Linked DNA regions of Homo sapiens. The protein of the gene in region 3 interacts with the protein of the main gene of each other region in a biochemical or structural test. Each region holds a gene or a part of one and is shown on either strand. Other genes may lie near its edges. The genes, in order: OAS3, UBE2O and IFRD2.

Region 1 (7,105 bases), on a different chromosome or scaffold from region 3:
GGAGGTTGCAATGAGCTGAGATCACTCCATTGCACTCCAGCCTGGGTGACAGAGTAAGACTCCGTCCCAAAAAAAAAAAAAAAAAAAATGCACAGGGCATCAGGCATGTAAAACAGTCTTATCACCAAGCTCAAGCTGAAACTGCCCGGGGGAAGGAGTCCTTTGTTTTTCTGCAGCTATGGTCTGGTTACCAGACCTTTCTGCCCATCACAAGGGCACCCATTTTGCAGTTTATCCCTCCAGAAAGGCACCTTTTTCAACTCTGCCCAAAGATGGCCATGTGCGTTAGCCATGGCCCTCCCACTTCCCCTCTCTGAGCCTCAGTCACCCTGACTGTACAAAGGGCGGGAGCTGGGGAGAGAAGGCATTGGGTTGATGCAGAAACCACTGCGCCTGGCTGAGGCAGCTCCTTCAATGACCTTCCAGGGCCTTCCACGTGCTGGATGCTCAGGTTTGGGCCACCCCATCCAGCTAGACCCTAACCAGAAGACCCCTGAAAACAGCAAGAGCCTCAATGCTGTGTACCCAAGAGCAGGGAGCAAACCTCCCTCATGCCCAGCTCCTGGCCCCACTGGGGCAGCCAGCATCGTCCCCTCTGTGCCGGGAATGGCCTTGGACCTGTCTCAGATCCCCACCAAGGAGCTGGACCGCTTCATCCAGGACCACCTGAAGCCGAGCCCCCAGTTCCAGGAGCAGGTGAAAAAGGCCATTGACATCATCTTGCGCTGCCTCCATGAGAACTGTGTTCACAAGGCCTCAAGAGTCAGTAAAGTGAGTTGGGCCAGTGGAGACACAGGGGGGACCCTATCGAGGGATCAGCGTGGGGAAGGGAAGGAGTTACAGCAATGGAGCTGAGGTTGGGCTGGGGAACTGGACGGCCCAGGAAGGATGATTTGCTGGCTTAAATAAAATATATTTAAGTGCCAGCTTAGATTTTCTTTTTTTTAATGATACAGTTTTTAAAACACTATTACAAGAATCAGATCACTTCCCTCCTCAGCTCAAAATTCTCCATGGTTTCACAGGGCGCAGAGGCCTCAAGTCCTACAGGATGGGCCCTGGTCTCCCTCTGGCCTTGACTTACTCCACACTGGCCTCCTGGCTGCTCTGAGCTTACCAGGTCCACAGAACAATTCAAGGCCTCTGTAGTGGCTGTTTTCTCTTCCTAGAAGAAAATGAGAATTCTCTTCCCCAACCATTTGGCTCTCTCTCTCTCGCTCTCTCTGTCTCTCCTCTTCAAGTTTCTTGATCTGATGTCCTCGTCCACTGAGGCCTGACCACACGATTTAAAATTGCAGTCTTGCCCGGGCACGGTGGCTCACGCCTGTAATCCTGGAACTTTGGGAGGCCAAGGTGGGCAGATCACCTGAGGTCAGGAGTTCAAGACCACCCTGGCCAACATGGTGAAACCCTGTCTCTACTGAAAATACAAAAATTAGCTGGGCATGGTGACGGGCCCCTGTAATCCCAGCTATGCAGGAGGCTGAGGCAGGAAAATCGCTTGAACCCGGGAGGCGGAGGTTGCAGTGAGCTGAGACCATGCCACTGCACTCCAGCCTGGGCGACAAGAGTGAAACTCCGTCTCAAAAATAAAAATAAATAAAAATAAAATTGCAGTCTTGCACTACCAGCCCCCTTTCTGTTCTGCACAGCACTTAGCATTTTCTCAGGACCTATTGTTTATTGATGGTCCCTTCCTTCCCTCCCCCAGCCAGCATGTAAGTTCCAGAAGAACAGAAATTTTGTATCCTCTCTTCTTCTTTCTTTCCTGCAACAAACATTTAGTGAGCACTTACATGTATCGGATATGTGTGATATCCCGTGTGAAGGAGGGAGGGAGGGAGGGAATTGATGGAAACAGGGCAACAGAGGACAATTGCAGGCCCTATTAGGGCTTGGGACCTCAATTTGCAACTGCTGGCCCAGATGTGCAGTCAGTAGATGCTGCAGATAGTAGGCTAAAATGTTTGGTCGCTGCCCCTACTTAATCCCACCTCCATTATCTGTTGCTGCAGTTTGGTCTGACTTAGCTCAGTCTTCATGGATCAGAGGGCAGGTGCAGGCAGATACAACTTGACTCTCTGTCACAATTCTAAGAGGTCACAGGACCCATGCAGTCGACCTTTGTCATAGTCCCCAGACCTGACATCAGCAAGAGGGCAGGTTCCAGGCTGTAGATGGGGCGCAGGTGATGGGATCGTAGTCCGACTCCCAGGCTCCTAGAGGGTCCCTGATCTGAGCTGTTCTTCCCTCCACAGGGGGGCTCATTTGGCCGGGGCACAGACCTAAGGGATGGCTGTGATGTTGAACTCATCATCTTCCTCAACTGCTTCACGGACTACAAGGACCAGGGGCCCCGCCGCGCAGAGATCCTTGATGAGATGCGAGCGCAGCTAGAATCCTGGTGGCAGGACCAGGTGCCCAGCCTGAGCCTTCAGTTTCCTGAGCAGAATGTGCCTGAGGCTCTGCAGTTCCAGCTGGTGTCCACAGCCCTGAAGAGCTGGACGGATGTTAGCCTGCTGCCTGCCTTCGATGCTGTGGGTGAGGGCGCCCAGCCTGTCCCTTGGAGAGTGATAGGGACCTCAGGCGCCCATCTAACAGGGGCACCTGCCATCCTCTTTGTGATCCTAATTCTCCTACTTGACCAAGCATTGAAAACTACTTTGAGATACTGAAAGTAATCATCACCATCAAATCTTACAACTATTTAGTGCTTTAACTTTACAAATATTTTAATTATGAAATGTTTCAAGCATACAGAAAACTACAGACGTCACACACCCATGTAGCCCAATTCAGATTTAACAAATGTTAACAGTAGGCATATCTGCTTGGTATTTTTTTAAAGAAATTTCTCATGTTATAATTTTCTTCCTTATTTTAAAGGGTTTACTTTATGGTTCATTTTTTTTTAACTTTCGGAGGTGAATCTTAGCTTAGTAATTATCAGTTTTAGTCAATGCAATTAAAGCTACCCATTTCCCTTTCAGTATCACATTAGCTACAGGGCAAATCTTTTGTTTGACATGCATAATTTTTATTATCATTCCGGTCTAAATATTTAGTACTTTTAATTATGACATTATTGTTTGTTCTTTCATCCATGAATATTTGGAAGTAGCTTTCCAAATGAATGTTTTGGAGATTTGTTTGCTTTCGGCATTTACTTATTATGTTTTTTAAAACTGTAGTCAGAAAACATACTTTATGTGATATCAATTCTTTGGAATTTGTTGGCATTTCTTAGATTGCCCATGGTTGAAAAGAATGCATGCTTTCCATCCAGGCATGGTGGATCACACCTGTAATCCCAGCATTTTGGAAGGCCAATGCGGGCAGGTCACTTGAGGTCAGGAGTTCGAGACCAGCCTGGCCACAGTGAAACCCCATCTCCACTAAAAATACAAAAAAAAAAAAAAAAAAAAAAAATAGCCTGGCATGGTGGCACGCACCTGTAATCCCAGCTACTCGGGAGACTGAGGCAGGAAAATCTCTTGAACCTGGGAGGCAGAGGTTGCAGTGAGCTGAGATTGCACCACTGCACTCCAGCCTGAGAGACAGAGTGAGACTCTATCTCATGCTTTCCATTGCTGAATGCAGACTTCTATATAGGTCCTTTAGATCTAGCTTATGACTTCTTGCTCGGATAATTTTTTGTTTGGTCTCTCAATTTCTGAGTAAAATATCTTAAAATCTCCTGCTCTGAATGGATATTTATCCCTTGTTCCTTGCAATTCTGTAAATTTTGTTTTTAATATTTTGAGGCTATGTTATTGGGAACATATAAGTGCATAATATTATATTTTATTGGATTGTTCTTTTATTATTAAGTAATAATCTTCATTTCTGAAAGTTATCTTTGTCTTAAAGCCTTTTGTCTGACATTAATAGGGCTTTAGTCCTCCTTTGTCAGCATTTTCCTGACGTACCCTCTCTACTCTTTATTTACTAGCATGTGTTATTAAATTGTACCCATTACAGGCAGCACAAAGCTAAAAGACAAAAATGAAAGAAGCAACAATGATATAATGATCTTCAAGGGTTTGATAATATCTTGGAACTAAACTTCCAGACACTAATAATAGGGGAGATTATTTCTTTTGTTTTTGTTTTTACAATCTATGCAAATTAAACCCTATTAATATAATTAACAAATTTTTTCACCATTGCTACTTGATTTCCTGTTCTTCCTTCTGGATTCATTTTCCTTCTTACAGAAATACATCTTTTAGTACTTTTTCAGAAAGGGTTTATGAGTGACAAATTTTTCTCAGACTTTGTCTAAAACCATTTCTGTTTCACCTCCATGCTTGAATGGGATGCTTGACACTTGTTTTCCTTAGTTCTGCTGTCTTCTTACCTGTTGTTGCTGATGAGAAGTCTCTGTCAGTTATTGATTTTTTGTTGTTAATGATCTGTTTTCTGTTTGCATGCATGAATTTTGTTTGTTCATTTTCTTTTGATTTCCCTTTCAGTGGCTTTTAAGACTTTCTCTTGGTTCATAGTATCCTTCAGTTTCTCTTTGATGTATCTGTGTATAGAATTCTTTTTTTCTATGATTTTTTTATTATACTTTAAGTTCTAGGGTACATGTGCACAACATGCAGGTTTGTTACATATGTATACATGTGCCATGTTGGTGTGCTGCACCCATTAACTCGTCATTTACATTAGGTATATCTTCTAATGCTATCCCTCCCCACTCCCCCCACCCCACGACAGGCCCTGGTGTGTGATGTTCCCCACCCCGTGTCCAAGTGTTCTCATTGTTCAGTTCCCACCTATGAGTGAGAACATGTGGTGTTTGGTTTTCTGCTCCTGTGTTCGTTTGCTCAGAATGATGGTTTCCAACTTCATCCATGTCCCTACAAAGGACATGAACTCATCCTTTTTTATGGCTGCATAGTATTCCATAGTGTATATGTGCCACATTTTCTTAATCCAGTCTGTCATTGATGGACATTTGGGTTGGTTCCAAGTCTTTGCTCTTGTGAATAGTGCCACAATAAACATATGTGTGCATGTGTCTTTCTAGCAGCATGATTTATAATCCTTTGGGTATATACCCGGTAATGGGATGGCTGGGTCAAATGGTATTTCTAGTTCTAGATCCTTGAGGAATCACCACACTGTCTTCCACAATGGCTGAACTAGTTTACAGTCCCACCAACAGTGTAAAAGTGTTCCTATTTCTCCACATCCTCTCCAGCACCTGTTGTTTCCTGACTTTTTAATGATCGCCATTCTAACTGGTGTGAGATGGTATCTCATTGTGGTTTTGATTTGCATTTCTCTGATGGCCAGTGATGATGAGCATTTTTTCATGTGTCTGTTGGCTGCATAAATGTCTTCTTTTGAGAAGTGTCTGTTCATATCCTTTACCCACTTTTTGATGGGGTTGTTTGATTTTTTTCTTATAAATTTGTTTAAGTTCTTTGTAGATTCTGGATATTAGCCCTTTGTCAGATGAGTAGATTGTAAAAATTTTCTCCCATTCTGTAGGTTGCTTGTTCACTCTGATGGTAGTTTCTTTTGCTGTGCAGAAACTCTTTAGTTTAATTAGATCCCATTTGTCAGTTTTGGCTTCTGTTGCCATTGCTTTTGGTGTTTTAGTCATGAAGTCCTTGCCCATGCCTATGTCCTGAATGGTATTGCCTAGGTTTTCTTCTAGGGTTTTTATGGTTTTAGGTCTAAGATGTAAGTCTTTAATCCATCTTGAATTAATTTTGTATAAGGTGTAAGGAAAGGATACAGTTTCAGCTTTCTAGATATGGCTAGCCAGTTTTCCCAGCACTATTTATTAAATAGGGAATCCTTTCCCCATTTCTTGTTTGTCTGTTTGTTTGTTTGTTGTTGTTGTTGTTGTTGTTGTTTGAGATGGAGTCTCGCTCTGTTGCCTAGGCTGGAGTGCAGTGACGCGATCTCGGCTCACTGCAAGCTCCACCTCCCAGGTTCACACCATTCTCCTGCCTCAGCTTCCCTAGTAGCTGGGACTACAGGTGCCCGCCACCACATCTGGCTAATTTTTTTGTATTTTTTAGTAGAGACAGACAGGGTTTCACCATGTTAGCCAGGATGGTCTTGATCTCCCGACCTCGTGATCCACCCACCTCGGCCTCCCAAAGTGCTGGGATTACAGGCGTGAGCCACTGCGCCTGGCCCCATTTCTTGTTTTTGTCAGGTTTGTCAAAGATCAGATGGTTGTAGACATGTGGTGTTATTTCTGAGGGCTCTGTTCTATTCCATTGGTCTATATCTCTGTTTTGGTACAGTACCATGCTGTTTTGGTTACTGTAGTATAGTTTGAAGTCAGGTAGCGTGATGCCTCCAGCTTTGTTCTTTTGGCTTAGGATTGTCTTGGCAATGCAGGCTCTTTTTTGGTTTCATATGAACTTTAAAGTAGTTTTTTCCAATTCTGTGAAGAAAGTCATTGGTAGCTTGTTGGGGATGGCATTGAATCTATAAATTACCTTGGGCAATATGGCCATTTTCACAATATTGATTCTTCCTATCCATGAGCATGGAATGTTCTTCCATTTGTTTGTGTCCTGTTTTATTTCACTGAGCAGTGGTTTGTAGTTCTCCTTGAAGAAGTCCTTCACATCCATTGTAAGTTGGATTCCTGGGTATTTCATTCTCTTTGAAGCAATTGTGAATGGGAGTTCACTCATGATTTGGCTCTCTGTTTGTTTGTTATTGGTGTGTAGGAATGCTTGTGATTTTTGCACAGTGATTTTGTATCCTGAGACTTTGCTGAAGTTGCTTATCAGCTTAAGAACATTTTGGGCTGAGACGATGGGGTTTTCTAAATATACAATCATGTCATTTGCAAACAGGGACAATTTGACTTCCTCGTTTCCTAATTGAATACCCTTTATTTCTTTCTCCTGCCTTATTGCCCTGGCCAGAACTTCCAACACTATGTTGAATAGGAGTGGTGAGAGAGGGCATCCCTGTCTTGTGCCAGTTTCCAAAGGGAATGCTTCCAGTTTTTGCCCATTCAGTACGATATTGGCTGTGGGTTTGTCATAAATAACTCATTATTTTGAGATGCCTCCCATCAATACCTAGTTTATTGAGAGTTTTTAGCATGAAGGGCTGTTGA
Region 2 (7,585 bases), on a different chromosome or scaffold from region 3:
CTGCCACTACATTATTTTGTCAATAATTGGGTTCTCAAATCTCATAACTAGATTAGTCAATCTTGGTCTAATGGTCTTTCCTTTACGGCATACTATCACCTTGATGGAATTCATAAGGAGCAGGAGGTGAGAAGAAAAATCATCCTAAGCCACAGTTCTGCAAGGTCCCAGGACCCACCCTACCACCCTGCTTGGTGGTCAGTAACAGACCAGGAGACATTCAGCTAATCAGTCACCTGTATCTATAGCTCATGGTAACAGAGCTACCTATCAGGTATAAACTCCACCCTCCAAAACAAACCTATTCTAAATCCTAAAAGAACTATATCTTGCCACCCATAAATGGGCATCCCATTCCACCACTTCCTTGGAATTTCTGCGTCCCTTGGCTTTTGCTAAACCCAGATGCTACAATGACAAAATACCACCACCGAGCCACAAAACGGATTTCAACAAATTCAAAGCAAGTCACAGGAGGCCAGCTGCAAAATCTATCCAAAGTGGTGCCTCAAAGTTGTTGTTTTTTTTTTCTTTTCTTTTGAGACAGAGTTTAACTCTTGCTGCCCAGGTTGGAGTGCAATGGTGCCATCTCAGCTCACCGCAACCTCCGCCTCCCTGGTTCAAGCAATTCTCCCGCCTCAGCCTCCCGAGTAGCTCAGGTTACAGGCATGCGCCACCAAGCCCAGCTAATTTTGTATTTTTAGTAGAGACAGGGTTTCTCCATGTTGGTCAGGCTGGTCTCGAACTCCTGACCTCAGGTGATCCGCCCGCCTCGGCCTCCCAAGTGCTGGGATTACAGGCATGAGCTACCACACCCGGCCGTTGTTTTCGATTTAACTCCAAAATAGGTATTTCAAGTCAAACTCTGTATAATTACACATAGTGCAGGAGGCAAACGGAGCATAACTGCAAACAAAGTTAACCACCAAAGTCAAGACGGACGGGAACAACAACTGATAAACATAGCGGCTCCCAGTAGTGAGCTGGGCCTACCTCCCTGAGTCCTAGGGCAGGAGGCCACAACACAGAGGATGCTGCAGTCAAATGAGTTGCGTTCCAAAAATCACGAATCTCTCAAATAGATGGGTGGTGAAAAACATTCTTAAAAACTCACAGAAAGACACCAGCAATCATCTGGTGTCACACAGTATACAGCAATAACCCTCTTTTACTGACACAATACTGGGTAATTTTTAACAAGCATTCTGTTGCACAAAAGTAATATTTTCCAAATACTCTTGTAAATGGACTGATAATTTTCCTTCCAAGTCTCAGAGCTGTTGCCTGATTCACATTTCTCTGAGGGGAAGCAGGGTCCTGTGTGTGGATTTGTGTCTGTGGATGTATGTGCATCCCCAACAAAAAGACCCCGCTGGTATCAGCAGTCACTTCTGCCTCTAGGAAATGGATCATGTGCTCTTCTCTGGAGTGGGGCCTTTTTCCTTCTCAAGCCGTTGTCACAGACCCCGCTTTGTAGTTTGACATGAAACCCCGTTCCTCTGTAGTCTTTGTCTCCCACTGTGTGAGAAACCCAGATCAACTTCCAAAGTGCCCTCCCCTGAAATCAGACCTCTCAACCTCCCAAGGACCTAAAACAGCGTAGGCCTGATTCCTGCTTAGAAATGTTTTCTTGAAGGGGAGGGGAAGTAGGAGAGAAAGAAGGGGTGTGAGATACAGGGGGGTGTGTGTGTGTGTGTGTGTGTGTCAATTACTGATAGGAATTCACATTCTGGAAAACAAGCCACCAAACCAACCCGGGTTCAAGGTTTCGGGTTTATGATGACAAGCCTCTTTGTTTTGTAAAACTGCTATACTCACTAGCATCACCCCAAAAACCATACGGGAGTCAGATGTCTGCTTAACAGCTTCAGGTCAAGAAAAAACCTTCGGGTTTCCAAATTGGTGACTCCCCTCTACCCAGGGTTCTGGATTATTTTTTTCAAGGAGTCCATATGCACTTAGGAGTCATCAATCCCGGTCGCAGCTGTCAGAATCCTCCCCCCCAAGTACTATTCATACCGGGGCTCTGATTGCTAATGATTTTACTCACAAAGTTCCCTGCAGCAATTAAAAGGAGGCAGCAGGGTAAAACAAAAAGAGGCTGGGTGGCTTCACCATAATGCAGCCTGTAAGCTAGTGAACTTCTTGGGTTCGGCTGGGATTTTCACCTCTATCTTTGTTTTGGAATGCCCACAACCCCTCCCTGCACGGACCCGGCACGGCCTTCATTTCTGGATGCACAATGCAGTACCGAGCTCCTTGGGGGTCAGCAAAACGCCGCACTGGTGTAACGCCGAACGCGCCCCAGAACCTGAGTCCCCACGGGAGTCGGTCCACGTCTCTAAATCTCGAGGCCGACACCACAGCATAACATGTCTTAGAAGTCCCCTCAAGTCGGGAAGCCCAGGGCCCGCCCGGTCCCGGGCCAGCAGTGCCTGGCTGGCGTGTGCGCCCAGAGCTGCTGCAATGACTTTGCATGGAGTGTACCCTCCACTGGGGCTGTCCTCCCGCGTCGGCCACTGCAGTGGCACCGCTCCGGGCAGGGCCCTGCACGCCGTCCTTCCCTGGCCTCGGCCCGGCCGCCGACCCCCTGCCGCCCGCGCCGCCCAGCCCCCGCCCGCCGCACCTTGGTCTCCTTCACATGCTGCTTGACGCCCTCCGGGTACCACTGGACGCGCACGTAGCCGCGGCGCAGGGGGCTGGCCCGGCCCTCCTCGTGGCCCGCGCCCCCGGCCTCGGAGCACCCCGAGCTCCCGCGGCCCTCCTCCTCGCCCTCCGAGTCCGAGTCCTCGCCGTGGATGAGGCGCACCAGCCCGAAGTGCACGGAGCCACGGTAACGGCCCGACACCAGGTCGTGAGAAAACAGCAGGCGCTGCGAGCCGGCTTCTGGGCCGGAGTCCGAGGACGGCCCGGAGGCCGAGTCCGAGGCGGGCGCCGGCGCCGGGACGGGGGCTGCGGCTGGGGCCGGGACTGCCTCCGGGGCTGGAGCCGGGGCCTGGGCTGGAGCGGGAGCTGCGGGCGTGGGGGCTGCGGGATCCGCCATAACTGCTCTGCGCGAGTCTCGGGCGGCGGCGGCGACAGCGGCGGCGAACGAGGCGCGGGGAGGCGGGACCAGCGGGCGCCGGGGGCGGGGCCATAGCGCGCTGACGTGTCCCTGCGTGGCGCCGTCGTCAGGGAGCCGGGATGCAGTTGCTAGGAGCCACCGCCTCGTCGCTAGGGGACGCTGAAGATGCCGCGGGGGGCGGGGGCAGGATGGAATCCACTAAGAAGGGGCGAGACCAGTGAGGATTCAACTAAAGGGAGCGAGAAGGGGCGGGGACCCGGGAGGAGGAAGTGGAGTGGCCACCGAGGAAGAGGGGAGTGGTCGGGGTGGGGCACAGGATGGTGGAGAGACTGTCAACAACTTTTAATGAGCTCCCTTGGCGTCCTAGCCTAGCCCCCAGGCACTGGGAGCATTGCAGAAAGAGAAAGATACTGTCCCTGTCCTCTAGGTGTTTCCAGTCTAGTTGGGGAGACAAAACAAATACACATTAAATAGATAACAAACAACTCCAACTTGTAAGGCTATAATAGATACGTGTAGAGCATATGTATAATGCACTGTATTCAGGAATTCCAAGCAGTTCGAACGTCATGACCCCTCAGAAGTTGACCCAGAAGCTGGTGAAGGAGGCCCAGAGAAAGGTAACAAAAGGATCAGTGGTCCCAGTGGTTTGGCTACAAATCCATGCAGATAAATTCAAAGCTCCCTGAAGCCAAGAATGAATGGCAAGAGGTAGTATAGTAAGGTAGCTAAGAGTGGGGACCACGGATTCCAATTTTTGGCACTGCCACTTACTAATCTATAAAAATAGGCACACTGATTAACTTATTTTCATCTTAATTTGCTCATCTGTGAAATAGGGATGATAATAGCAATACTCATCTCATTGGGCAATTGGAGGATTAAGTGAAGTAGAACAGTGCCTGGCATTTAGCTCCTTCGATAAGCTTAACCATTGTTGTACTATTTCCAAACTCCCTGCCTAGACTAAATTCCAGACTGGCAGAACTGTTATGGTCTGCTCCATATTGTCATTTTAAAATATAAAAAGTAGGCCGGGCGCGGCAGCTCACACCTGTCATCCCAGTACTTTGGGAGGCTGAGGTGGGCGGATCACGAGGTCAAGAGATTGAGACCATCCTGGCCAACATGGCGAAACCCCATCTCTACTAAAAATACGGAAAAAAAAAAAAAATAGCTGGGCGTGGTGGCACATGGCTGTAGTCCCAGCTACTCAGGAGGCTGAGGCAGGCAAATCGCTTGAACCTGGGAGGCTGAGGTTGCAGTGAGCCCAGATCGCGCCACTGCACTCCACCCTGGGCAACAGAGCAAGACTCTGTCTCAAAAAAATAAATAAATAAAAATAAATAAAATATAAAAAGTAACTCTAGGGCCAGGCGTGGTGGCTCATGCCTGTAATCCCAGCACTTTGGGAGGCAGAAGCAGATGGATCACCTGATCACCTGAGGTCAGGAGTTCAAGACCGCCCTGGCCAACATGGCGAAATCCCTTCTCTACTAAAAGTACAAAAATTAGCTGGGCGTGGTGGTGTGCACCTGTAGTCCCAGCTACTTGGGAGGCTGAGGCAGGAGAATTGCTTGAATCTGGGAGGCAGAAGTTGCAGTGAGCCGAGATCATGCCACTACACTCCAGCCTTGGCAACAGAGCAGGACTCTGTCTCAAAAAACAAAAAACAAAAAAAAGGCTGGATGTGGTGGCTCTTGCCTGTAATCCCAGCACTTTGGGAGACCGAGGCGGGTGGGAGACCCGAGGTCAGGAGTTCAAGACCAGCCTGGCCAAGATGGTGAAACCCTGTCTCTACTAAAAATACAAAAATTAGCCGGGCGCGGTGGCAGCCGCCTGTAATCCCAGCTACTCGGAAGGCTGAGGCAGGAGAATCACTTGAACCTGGGGAGTGGAGGTTGTAGTGAGCCTAGATCGCGCCGCTGCACTCCAGCCTGGGCGACAGAGTGAGATTCCGTCTCAAAAAAAAGTAACTCTAGGCCGGGCACAGTGGCTCACGCCTGAAATCCCAACACTTTGACTGCGCCTGAAATCCCAACACTTTGGGATGCCAAGGTGGGTGGATCAGTTGAGGTCAGGAGTTCAAAACTAGCCTGGCCAACATGGCAAAACCCCATGTCTACTAAAAATCCAAAATTAGCTGGGCAAGGTGGCAGGCGCCTGTAATTCCAGCTACTTGGGAGGCTGAGACACGAGAACCACTTGAACCTGGGGGTTGGAGGTTGCAGTGAGCCTAGATCACACCACTGCACTCCAGCTTGGGTGACAGAGTGAGACTCTATCTCAAAAGAAAAAAACTAACTCTAATTTAATGTGTCACCTAAGTTTCAAAGGGTTTAGATACATTCTCAGAGGACAGATTTAAATGGATTGTTAAGGAAAACAAGATCTGGCCCTAACCTTTCTCAGTCAACATCATTTTTTCCACATTTTTCTACACGATCATCAACGAAAGACTAGTAAGTTGGATATTACAGTATTTAGGTTCTTCAAAGAAGGCAGAATCCCAGCTCTTTGTGTTGTTTACAGGATCCTGAAGATACAGAACTATGTTCATAGAAAAGTTGGTTGGGTGTGGTGGCTCACATCTGTAATCCCAGCACTTTGGGAGGCCAAGGCAGATGGATCATTTGAAGTCAGGAGTTCAAGAGCACCCTGGCCAACATGGTGAAACCCCGTCTCTGCTAAAAACACAAAATTAGCCAGGTGTAGTGGCGCATGCTTGTAGTCCCAGCTACTCGGGAGGCTGATGCAGGAGAATCGCTTGAACCCGGGAGCAGGAGGTTACAGTGAGCCAAGAACACATCACTGCACTCCAGCCTGGGCGACAGAGCGAGACTGCGTCTCAAAAAAAGAGAGAGAAAAGTTAAAAGAACATGCACAAGGTCGGGCACGGTGGCTCACGCCTGTAATCCCAGCACTTTGGGAGGCTGAGGCAGGCGGATCACTTGAGGTGAGGAGTTCAAGACCAGCCTAACCAACATGGAGAAACCCCATCTCTACTAAAAATACAAAATTAGCCAGGCATGGTAGCCCATGCCTGTAATCCCAGCTACTCAGGAGGCTGAGGCAGGAGAATCACTTGAACCCGGGAGGTGGAGGTTGTGGTGAGCCAAGATCGAGCCATTGAACTCCAGCATGGGCAACAAGAGCAAAACTCCATCTCAGGAAAAAAAAAAAAAAAAAGAACATGCACAAAACAGATGGCAGCCTAAGTACTTAAGATGTCTTAGGCCAAGTACTAATAGAGTATTGATGTAATATTGGGATCAGGGTGGTTGTCAATGGACCCAAATCTTAGAAAATTTATCTACTAAGATATAGAACAAATGGGCTGAATCAGCTGAAGGGGGAGTTAGGATATGATTTTGGGGCAAGGCTGGGTTCTCAAACCATGGCCTTCCCATCCCAGAACACAATGCCAAATGACCATCTGGAATCACTGCTGTAAGGACGCAGGTCCCTACTCCCTCTCCTGTAGAGACCTGGGAGATTAAACAGCAGTAACATAGTAGCTTCTGTTCTGCCTCCCATGACCCTTTCAGCCCTGTTTTCTTGCCCCCTGATAACATAGCATTTATTAAGCACATATTATTGACCAGGCATTGTACCAGGTACTTCCAAGCACATTATCTTGTCTGTTATCACAATCTTGGATATAGAGAGTTTTTAACCTCATTTTACCAATGAAGAAATAGGGCCCAAGGAATTTGGCGCCTAAGGTAACAGGTAGTAACCTGAGGAGTTTCCCCACTCTAAGGGCAGGGGCTTTTGTAGTTATGCTATTTCTTTAGGCTTCCCTCAGAAGAACTCCTGATTGCACAGGGGAGTCCATGTGTCTATGTGTCCCACGGCGGGATAAGGCAGTGCAGACCTCAAATCTGCTTTTTGTTTCATGGCAGGGTCTCACTCTGTCGCCCATGCTGGAGTGCAGTAGCGTGATCTTGACTCACTGCAACCTCCGTCTCCCAGGTTCCAGCGATTCTCCTGCCTCAGCCTCCTGAGTAGCTGGGATTACAGGCGCCCACCACCACGGCTGGCTAATTTTTGTATTTTTAGTAGAGACGGGGTTTACCATGTTGGCCAGGCTGGTCTCGAACTCCTGACCTCAAATGATCCACCCGCCTTGCCCTCCCAAAGTGTTGGGATTACAGGCATAAGCCACCGCACCCGGCCTCAAATCTGCTTTTGTTGTCAAAAAATCAAGTGAGTTTTGCATTGTACTCCAGAGTATGCCTATGTTTGTTGTTTTAATGTAAAAACTAATGCCCTTTCCTCCCTAATCATTGAGTAATATCGGCACTCCTGGAAGACGTGTTGTGTTTATTCTGCGGCTTCTTGTAATAATGGCTAATAATAGCTATCACTTATTGAGCTGTAACTTCATGCCAGATACTCTACTAAGTGCTTTACATAGATTATCAGGATACTGCCAGGTTGGAGGTAAGACTCCTTGATTTTACATGCTGATCTCTCCCTCACTAGACTAAACCCTTAAGCATGTGGACCATGTTGTAT
Region 3 (7,052 bases):
CCTAGGGAAGGGGCAGGCTGAGCTATATGTGTGGCTTGGGGGCCTCTTTGAGATCCCCTCCCCCTCCCAGTGGACAGCCACCCCTACCTGTCAAGGATGTGGCTGATTTGGGTGCTAGGGCAGATGGTGAGCAGCAATGCCCAGGCCTGCAGGGCAGCAGAGAGCAGGCCGTGCAGGCTGGCAGGAACCACAGGACTTGTGGAGCTGCCCCCCAAGCCATAGAACCGGCTGAAAACACTTTCTAAGCAGGCAAGGCAAGAGACCAGGTCCTAGGAGCACAGAGAGGCAGGGGAGCTCAGAGGCAGAGTTACAGCCCTAGATGCTCTACCACCTGTGCCCAAAGACCCCTCACCTGGATGTCAGCGGCAGCCACGTAGCAGCCCAGGCCAAGGGCAGAAGCACACTGTTGGGAGAAGGGCAATGCAATGCCACGGTCAGCGGGTGAACCTGGGTTCCCAGCCCTGGAGCTCACTCCCCTCAGAGTAAAGGAGGCTGAAGATAGGGGGAACCCACCACTCTGCTGAGGGATAAGGTGCAGGAAGGGTTTCATGGGGCACAGGCACACTCACGTGGAGCCGGGCAGCAGGGCTAGCTGTGCTGTCACTGAGCACAGAGACCAGCAGAGGCTGCAGGCTGTGAAACAGCTCCTCACCCTTAGGTCCAGGGCCCAGCTGCACGCAGAGCAGGCCTAGCACAGCAGCAGCCAGGGCTTGTTCCTCGCCCTTCCCTGTGGGATGCTTTCCAGTCAGCCCATGCAGCAAGGGCCAGTGTCTGCCCAGTTTAAGTCTCCCACACACCCCCAGGTCCAACCTTTCTTGAGGCACTTTTCCAGGGCATCGGCTAGCGTGAGGCGGCGCTCCAGCAAGAAGTCGGGGAGTAGGCGGGACGCTAGGGCCAGGCGCAGGCTCTCAAGAGCACCCTGCCGGGTCTTGGCACTGGGGGAGGTCGAGAAGGGGGGTCATATGGGCCAGCCCTCCCTTGATCACACTTGGAGCTGGGTGTAGGAGTTGGCTGGCAGCCAGGGGTACCTCTTGTCTGTGAGACAGTCCACATACTCCTTCAGCTTTTCCTCAAGGTCTTCCTGCTGGCCCTGCTCATCCACGACATCCCCCCCTGCAAGGCCACCTGGTCAGCACCGCTTCTTGTCCTCAGCCCATGGAGCCCTCACCAAGCCCCTGTCAAACTTCCACCCGCTCTCACCAAGGCTGTCCTCTGCAGTGGTGCTGAGAAGGCTGGGGCATTCACTGGCGGTGCTGCGGGCCTCACTGGCTGCCTCATCGTCACTGGAACCCGAGTCAGCTTGGGCACTGCTCCGGGCACCTGGAGAAGGTGGAATAGGACACTCAACTTGCCTCTACTGATGAGGGATGGCTGGGGGTACCTCACTCGACCTCATAATCCCAAAAGATAGAATGGTGTCCCTCTCAGAGATGAAAAACCAAAGCCAAGGGTCAGTTCAGTAGGGCTGGTGCACTCCTGTGTGTGGGGTCTGTCCAGGGCCAAGGGCTGACATTGGCAAGGTTGGCTGCTGTGGCAGAGTTTTGGACAGGGTGTGATCACCAGGCTGGCCCTACTTCTAAGAACTACTCACACCCCTCATCTGCAGGACAAAGTCCAGCCTGCGCACTGGCCTCTGCTCCCCGCCACCTTTTTTTTTTTTTTTTTTTTTTGAGACAGAGTTTTGCTCTTGTTGCCCAGGCTGGAGTGCAATGACGCCATCTCGGCTCACTGCGACCTCTGCCTCCCGGGTTCCAGTGATTCTCCTGCCTCAGCCTCCCGAGTAGCTGGGATTACAGGCATACGACACCACACCCAGCTAATTTTGTATTTTTAGTAGATAGGGTTTCTCCATGTTGGTCAGGCTGGTCTCGAACTCCTGGCCTCAGGTGATCTGCCTGCCTTGGCCTCCCAAAGTGCTGGGATTACAGGTGTGAGCCACCACGCCCAGCCTGCTCCCATTTTATCTTACTATTCTACCTGCCGGAGCAGCCCAGCCTTCCCTCATTCACTCCACTGCGCTGGGGTCCCTCCAGCTGCCAGGTCTTTGTACAACTTGCTCTCTTCTCCATCCTCTCAGGACTCACCCAGAAGCACTTCCCCCCAGGCCTCCCTGAGTCCTAAGTCTGGGGCTGACACCACTCAGTGAACATGTTCCACACCCTATTAGATGTCCCCCACCCAAAACCCACCATGGTGGTGACCAGTTTAAAGTTGTGCCTAGGTATTTTCCTCCTTCCTGTGCCCGGCCCTCCTCCCTTCCCCCTCAAGAATAAAAATAAATAAATTTGTGCGTGGTAGGCACCCCATCCCAGCAGAGTAAACATATGTGTTTAACGCATTAAGATAGGCTCCTGGTCTAAGCTGATAAGCGAGTCCCAAGACTGCCTCAGGCTCCAGGATACTCAGCTACCTTGTGGAGTCAGGCCTGCCAAGCTGCCAAGGCCCTAACCAGGTAGCTTCCCAACAGAGCCCCCTCCCTCTCTTCACCGGAGCAGGCCAGGACTCCCGCCAACTTCCTTGACCAGTCCAGGAAAGGATCAGGGTTTGGCAAGAGGACTGGCTTCCTGCCCTGTCCGGTGAGTTTGTCCACCCAGCAGGCAACTGAGGCCCGGAGGGGCTGGCCGGGTCACCGCTGGGAGCGCGGACTCCCAACAGGCAGTGGGCAGCGAGCTCAAGTTGGGCACGCACGTGGCCAATGACTGCTGGGGCACGTGCCAGCCTCGGTAGAGTTATGGGAAGCTGCGTGGGGCTGGCCGAGGGGGTTCCCCACCCAGGGCCCTCGAGAACAACCAAGGGGATCCAGCAGGACCCCCGCCCGCCGCTCATACAGCTGTCCCGCGCCCCCCACCCCACTCACCTCCTCCACGGCGCTGACCACCCTTCCGGAGCGTGTTGCCCTTACGGGCGCGAGGCATGCCGGGAACCGGGCGCGGGGGGCGCGGGGTCAGGGACCCGGTGGGTGTGGGCTCCAGGCCAACGAGACGCCGGCCGGTGCGCTGCGCTGAGACTTGGCCAGACGACGGGAGCCACACGCCACGCGCGCCACCATCTTCGCGAGGCGCCCCGCCCTGCCAAACAGGTCGCCGGGAAGGCGAGTTCCAGGCCATCCGATTCAGGCCCACATCCACGAGGCTAAAACTACTAATCCCAGAGGCCTGAGCGCGCAGGCGACGGCGGCTAGCTGCGCGTAGAGCACCATGGGAATGGTAGTCCACGCCTGGGGCCCACCAGCCGACGACGCGCTGGCTGAACTATGCACCCACAATGCCCTGCGCGCGCCCCAGCCCCGCGTCGGGAACAAGTGCACGGTGGTTAACTCCGAAGCGTCCCTCAGTGGAGCACCAAGGCAGGACTGGCTTCTCAGGGCACTTGGCAGCGGGACACTCCAGACGAGACCTACCCCTGCCTGGGTCTGGGGACCATGGGAAGGGCTTAGAGCTTGGGATAACAGGAGCAACAGCCAAACCTCAGGCAGTGGAAAAAAGTGACTTTATGATGAAAGAGTGCAGACAACAGCTTAGCACTTTACCGACCTTCGCCAAGATTTTTTGGGGCCCATCTGCCCGTGCACGGCCCATCTGTGACCTCTCCATGGGCTTAGTGAGGTGTAGGCACAAAGCCCTAGGCTGGCAGCCCTAACTAGCTGGAACCTGACTCTCCCTGGAACTGCTTCCTTGCCATGGAGGACTCACATGATCTCAGAGGGCCTCTGGTTTTATAAGCGTTTTTTCTGGCCCCTTCTACCCCTCAGGGATTCCAAGGGAAGCGGGGTGTGTGCTTGGGAGGGTTGACTGTAAACTGAATAGAGCAAGAGTGGGACAGAGTAGTTCCAGGACTGGAAAAGTGGCAGCAGGGAAAAGAAGAGGCAGTGGCAGGGGCCCTGGCTTTATACTGCTTCTTTAGGCCCAGGCCTGGGCTCCTGGCAGGTGGGGCCAGCCCAGCCCCAGTAACAGTGGCAGCTGAAGGACTTCCAATCTCCAAGGCTGCCGTCTGGCCACAGGTGTAGAAAGGCTTCCATCTGTCCTGGATCTCGCCGGGCACAGCGCCCGTGGCCATGGCACCGCTGGTGACTGCAGGCCATCGCTGCCCTGGTCACATTGATCACATAGGGGCCCAAGGTGTCCACCAGGTAGTCATGGAGATGCCAGCACTCCTCCTGAGGAGAAGGGAAGATATGTGTCAATATGCCTGCTCTATAATCTTGACATGGCCGTCCCCCACCCTGGGACCCCAGCATGTGCTACATGGCAGGCTCAAAGGGGCAATGATCACCTCAGAGCTGGAGAGGCTCAGGTCCCCCCAGAGCACCACGCCGGCTGCCCCTAGTGCTGCACTCACACCAATGGACTGCACAAGGTCATCCTGGAGGCAGAGAGCTGCTAAGCCAGTGCTGGGCTGGCCAGATCCATGTGGGCACACATCCACATTCAAGAAACTCTTCTGGTTCACTGTCACAATCTGATTCTAACTCTACAGTAGGGACTCTCTAGTTTGGTTTGGTTTTAGAGGCGGGGTTTTACTCTGTCATCCAGGCTGGAGTGCAGTGGCATGATCATAGCTCACTGCAGCCTTGAACTCCTGGGATCAAGTAATCCTCCCACCTCAGCCTCCCAAGCAGCTGGGACTACAGGTGCATAACACCTGGCTAATAATTTTTTAGGCTGGGCACAGTGGCTCACACCTGTAATCCCACACTTTGGGAGGCAAAAGCGGGAGAATCACTTGAGCCCAGGAGTTCAATACCAGCCTGGGCAACATGACAAAACCCCATCTCTACAAAAATATAAAAATTAGCTGGGTGTGGTGGTATGCATCTGTAGTCCAGCTATTCGGGAGGAGGCTTAGGTGGGAGGATCACTAGAACCAGGAAGTGAAGGCCGCAGTGAGCTGAGATGGTGCCACTGCACTCCAGCCTGGGCAACAGAGCAAGACTCTGTCTCAAATGTTTTTTTGGTAGAGGTTGGGGTCTCACTATGTTGCCCAGGCTGGTCTCGAACTCTTGGCCTCAAGGAATCCTTCCATCTCAGGCTCCCAAAGTACTGGGATTATAGGTGTGAGACACTCACCCAGCCCAAGTAGGGCCCCTTTGTATCGAGTCTCTGAGTGGCTTCTCAGGCCTTCCACTCAGAATATCTCCCCTCAGGCCAGCACTCCAAAGGCTGGGCCTCCCTACCCCTCAACATCTTCCAGGGCAAAGCCATGCCTCCCTCATCAGATGCTCCAGGACAGGGCCTTCCGCTGAGAACGCCTAGATTAGGACCAACCCCTAGGCAAGGTCTTCTCCTGGGACCTTCCTAGAACAGGGCCATACCTCCTGACTCAGACCCCTAGACCTCAGCTTCCACTTACCTGGGACAGGAACCTCCCAGATCTCCGGTGTGTGAGGCGGACATAGGCCAGGACAGGCAGGGGATGTCGGTGCCCAACAAGGGCCACACGGAAGGCCTCCTCCAGGCGATGTCGGACAAAGGCCTGGTGGTGGGCAGGTGGCAGCCTGGGTGGGAGGTAGATGCTGGGGAAGAGGGCACTGGAGGCGGCCCAGAGCCAATGCAGTTGAGTGTTGCGGGCAAGGGTGGCTGCATGGCAGCGGCCGGTATAGTTGGAAGCCATACTATGCCAGCCATTGCCACAGGCTGGGTAGTGATAGAAGCCCCAGAGTCCATGGGGCCGTAGTGCCTGGGCCACCCGCAGCGTATCCTCCATCAGTGCACGGGCCGCCTGCTCAAAGCCAGTATAGGCCTTGTAGAGCTGCTCCTGAGGGTCCAGGTCAGGGAATACCTGCTGTGCCCAAGCCCAAGAGGCTGCCTGATAAGCTCGGCGGCGGCCCCAGTTCCCAGCCCAGAGTGGACACCACTCCTCCCAATCCAGCACTGCTGGGCCAGCAAAGCCAGGTCTCAGGCTGTGGTGGATCTGGTAGGCAGCCAGTGCCAGGTGGCGGTCAAGGGGCAAAGCCTGGGGGATGCCCCCATTGTGAGCTGTGCCCCTGGGTCCAAAGTAGGGATAGAGGCCGAGTTGGTTCTTGTAGAAAATGGTCATGTTCTGACCGTGAAAATGCTGGCCACGGTTGGCTATGATGCCCAGAGCATTGAGTGGCAGGTGCACACCAAAGCGGGCCTCACAGTGTGCTGAGGGTACATTCCACAGCACAGAGAAGGGGCGTTCAGGGACCTGTGGTAGGGGCTGGCCACAACCCAGGCACAGGGCCACCCCCAGCACCAGGGCTGGGCCCAGTTGCGTGGTCATTCCCCAAGGATGGAAACCTGCAGGAGAGAGGGGGGTGTAAGCTTAGAGTCCGCAGCTATGGCCACACCTTCCACATGGCAGGGAAAGCCAGGAAAGCTCCCCCAGCTCCTCCCCATCCTTACAGGAGGAGCTGGGGAAAGCATGTTTCCCCAGGGGTCTCTTGGGCCTTTTAAAGCAGCCACACCGCAAGCTGGCTATGATGCCCCGGGCATCGAGTGGCAGGTGCACACCAAAGCGGGCTTTACAGTGAGCTGAGGGTACATTCCCTCCCATGTTCCGTCTTTGTCAATACACCACTGTGTCCTCCCACAACTGTCACAAGTCCCCTTCTTTCCTCTGCCCACCTTGTTCCCTCTTCCAAGAACAGTCAGCTCCCACCTCCTCACCTGCCTGGTTTAATTCCTACCTAGCACTCAGGTCTCTGCTGTGACATCACTGCCCTGGGAGGTCTCCTGGATCCCCAGGTGGAGTGAAGTCACTTGGGTTCCCAAAGCCTCTGTACCTCCCCTGTGCCACATGGATCCTGCTACTGTATGCCTGTTTGTCTAGTTACCCATTGCCTATGTCCCGTCCAGGGCTTGACACACAGTAGGTGCTCAGTGAATGGTAATGAGTGAATGGGGAAGAAAACAGCCACCCTGTCTCCTGAGCCAGGTGGGGGGTAAAGGCAAAGGACAGGCATCCTCCCATCAATGGCCTCAGGGCCAAGGTGGATCTGGAGACTTCTGCAGGGATAAGGGACCTGCAGAAGAGGTGAGAGGTGAGGGTAGGGGGATCAACAAATAAACTGTCACAGCCATACCCAAGAG

What was found.
Region 1: the proteins of IFRD2 (region 3) and OAS3 form a complex in vitro, tested with the Homo sapiens proteins (one study listed by BioGRID).
Region 2: of the proteins of IFRD2 (region 3) and UBE2O, one has a biochemical effect on the other in vitro, tested with the Homo sapiens proteins (one study listed by BioGRID).

The regions. Positions count from the first base shown.
Region 1 is NC_000012.12:112,948,435-112,955,539, forward strand, and holds part of OAS3 (2'-5'-oligoadenylate synthase 3), read left to right. Parts: intron 1-426; coding exon 427-771; intron 772-2,258; coding exon 2,259-2,541; intron 2,542-7,105.
Region 2 is NC_000017.11:76,450,099-76,457,683, forward strand, and holds the start of UBE2O ((E3-independent) E2 ubiquitin-conjugating enzyme), read right to left. Parts: upstream 3,055-7,585; 5' UTR 3,044-3,054; coding exon 2,627-3,043; intron 1-2,626. UniProt on the Homo sapiens protein: E2/E3 hybrid ubiquitin-protein ligase that displays both E2 and E3 ligase activities and mediates monoubiquitination of target proteins. Negatively regulates TRAF6-mediated NF-kappa-B activation independently of its E2 activity.
Region 3 is NC_000003.12:50,289,360-50,296,411, forward strand, and holds the start of IFRD2 (interferon-related developmental regulator 2), read right to left. Parts: upstream 3,071-7,052; 5' UTR 2,916-3,070; coding exon 2,858-2,915; intron 1,321-2,857; coding exon 1,201-1,320; intron 1,114-1,200; coding exon 1,029-1,113; intron 936-1,028; coding exon 811-935; intron 728-810; coding exon 570-727; intron 404-569; coding exon 353-403; intron 270-352; coding exon 88-269; intron 2-87; coding exon 1-1. Other genes in the region: HYAL3 (hyaluronidase-3 isoform 1 precursor), read right to left, coding at 3,887-4,156, 4,273-4,362, 5,350-6,243. UniProt on the Homo sapiens protein: Ribosome-binding protein that acts as an inhibitor of mRNA translation by promoting ribosome inactivation. Associates with the P- and E-sites of the ribosome and inserts a C-terminal helix into the mRNA exit channel to preclude translation.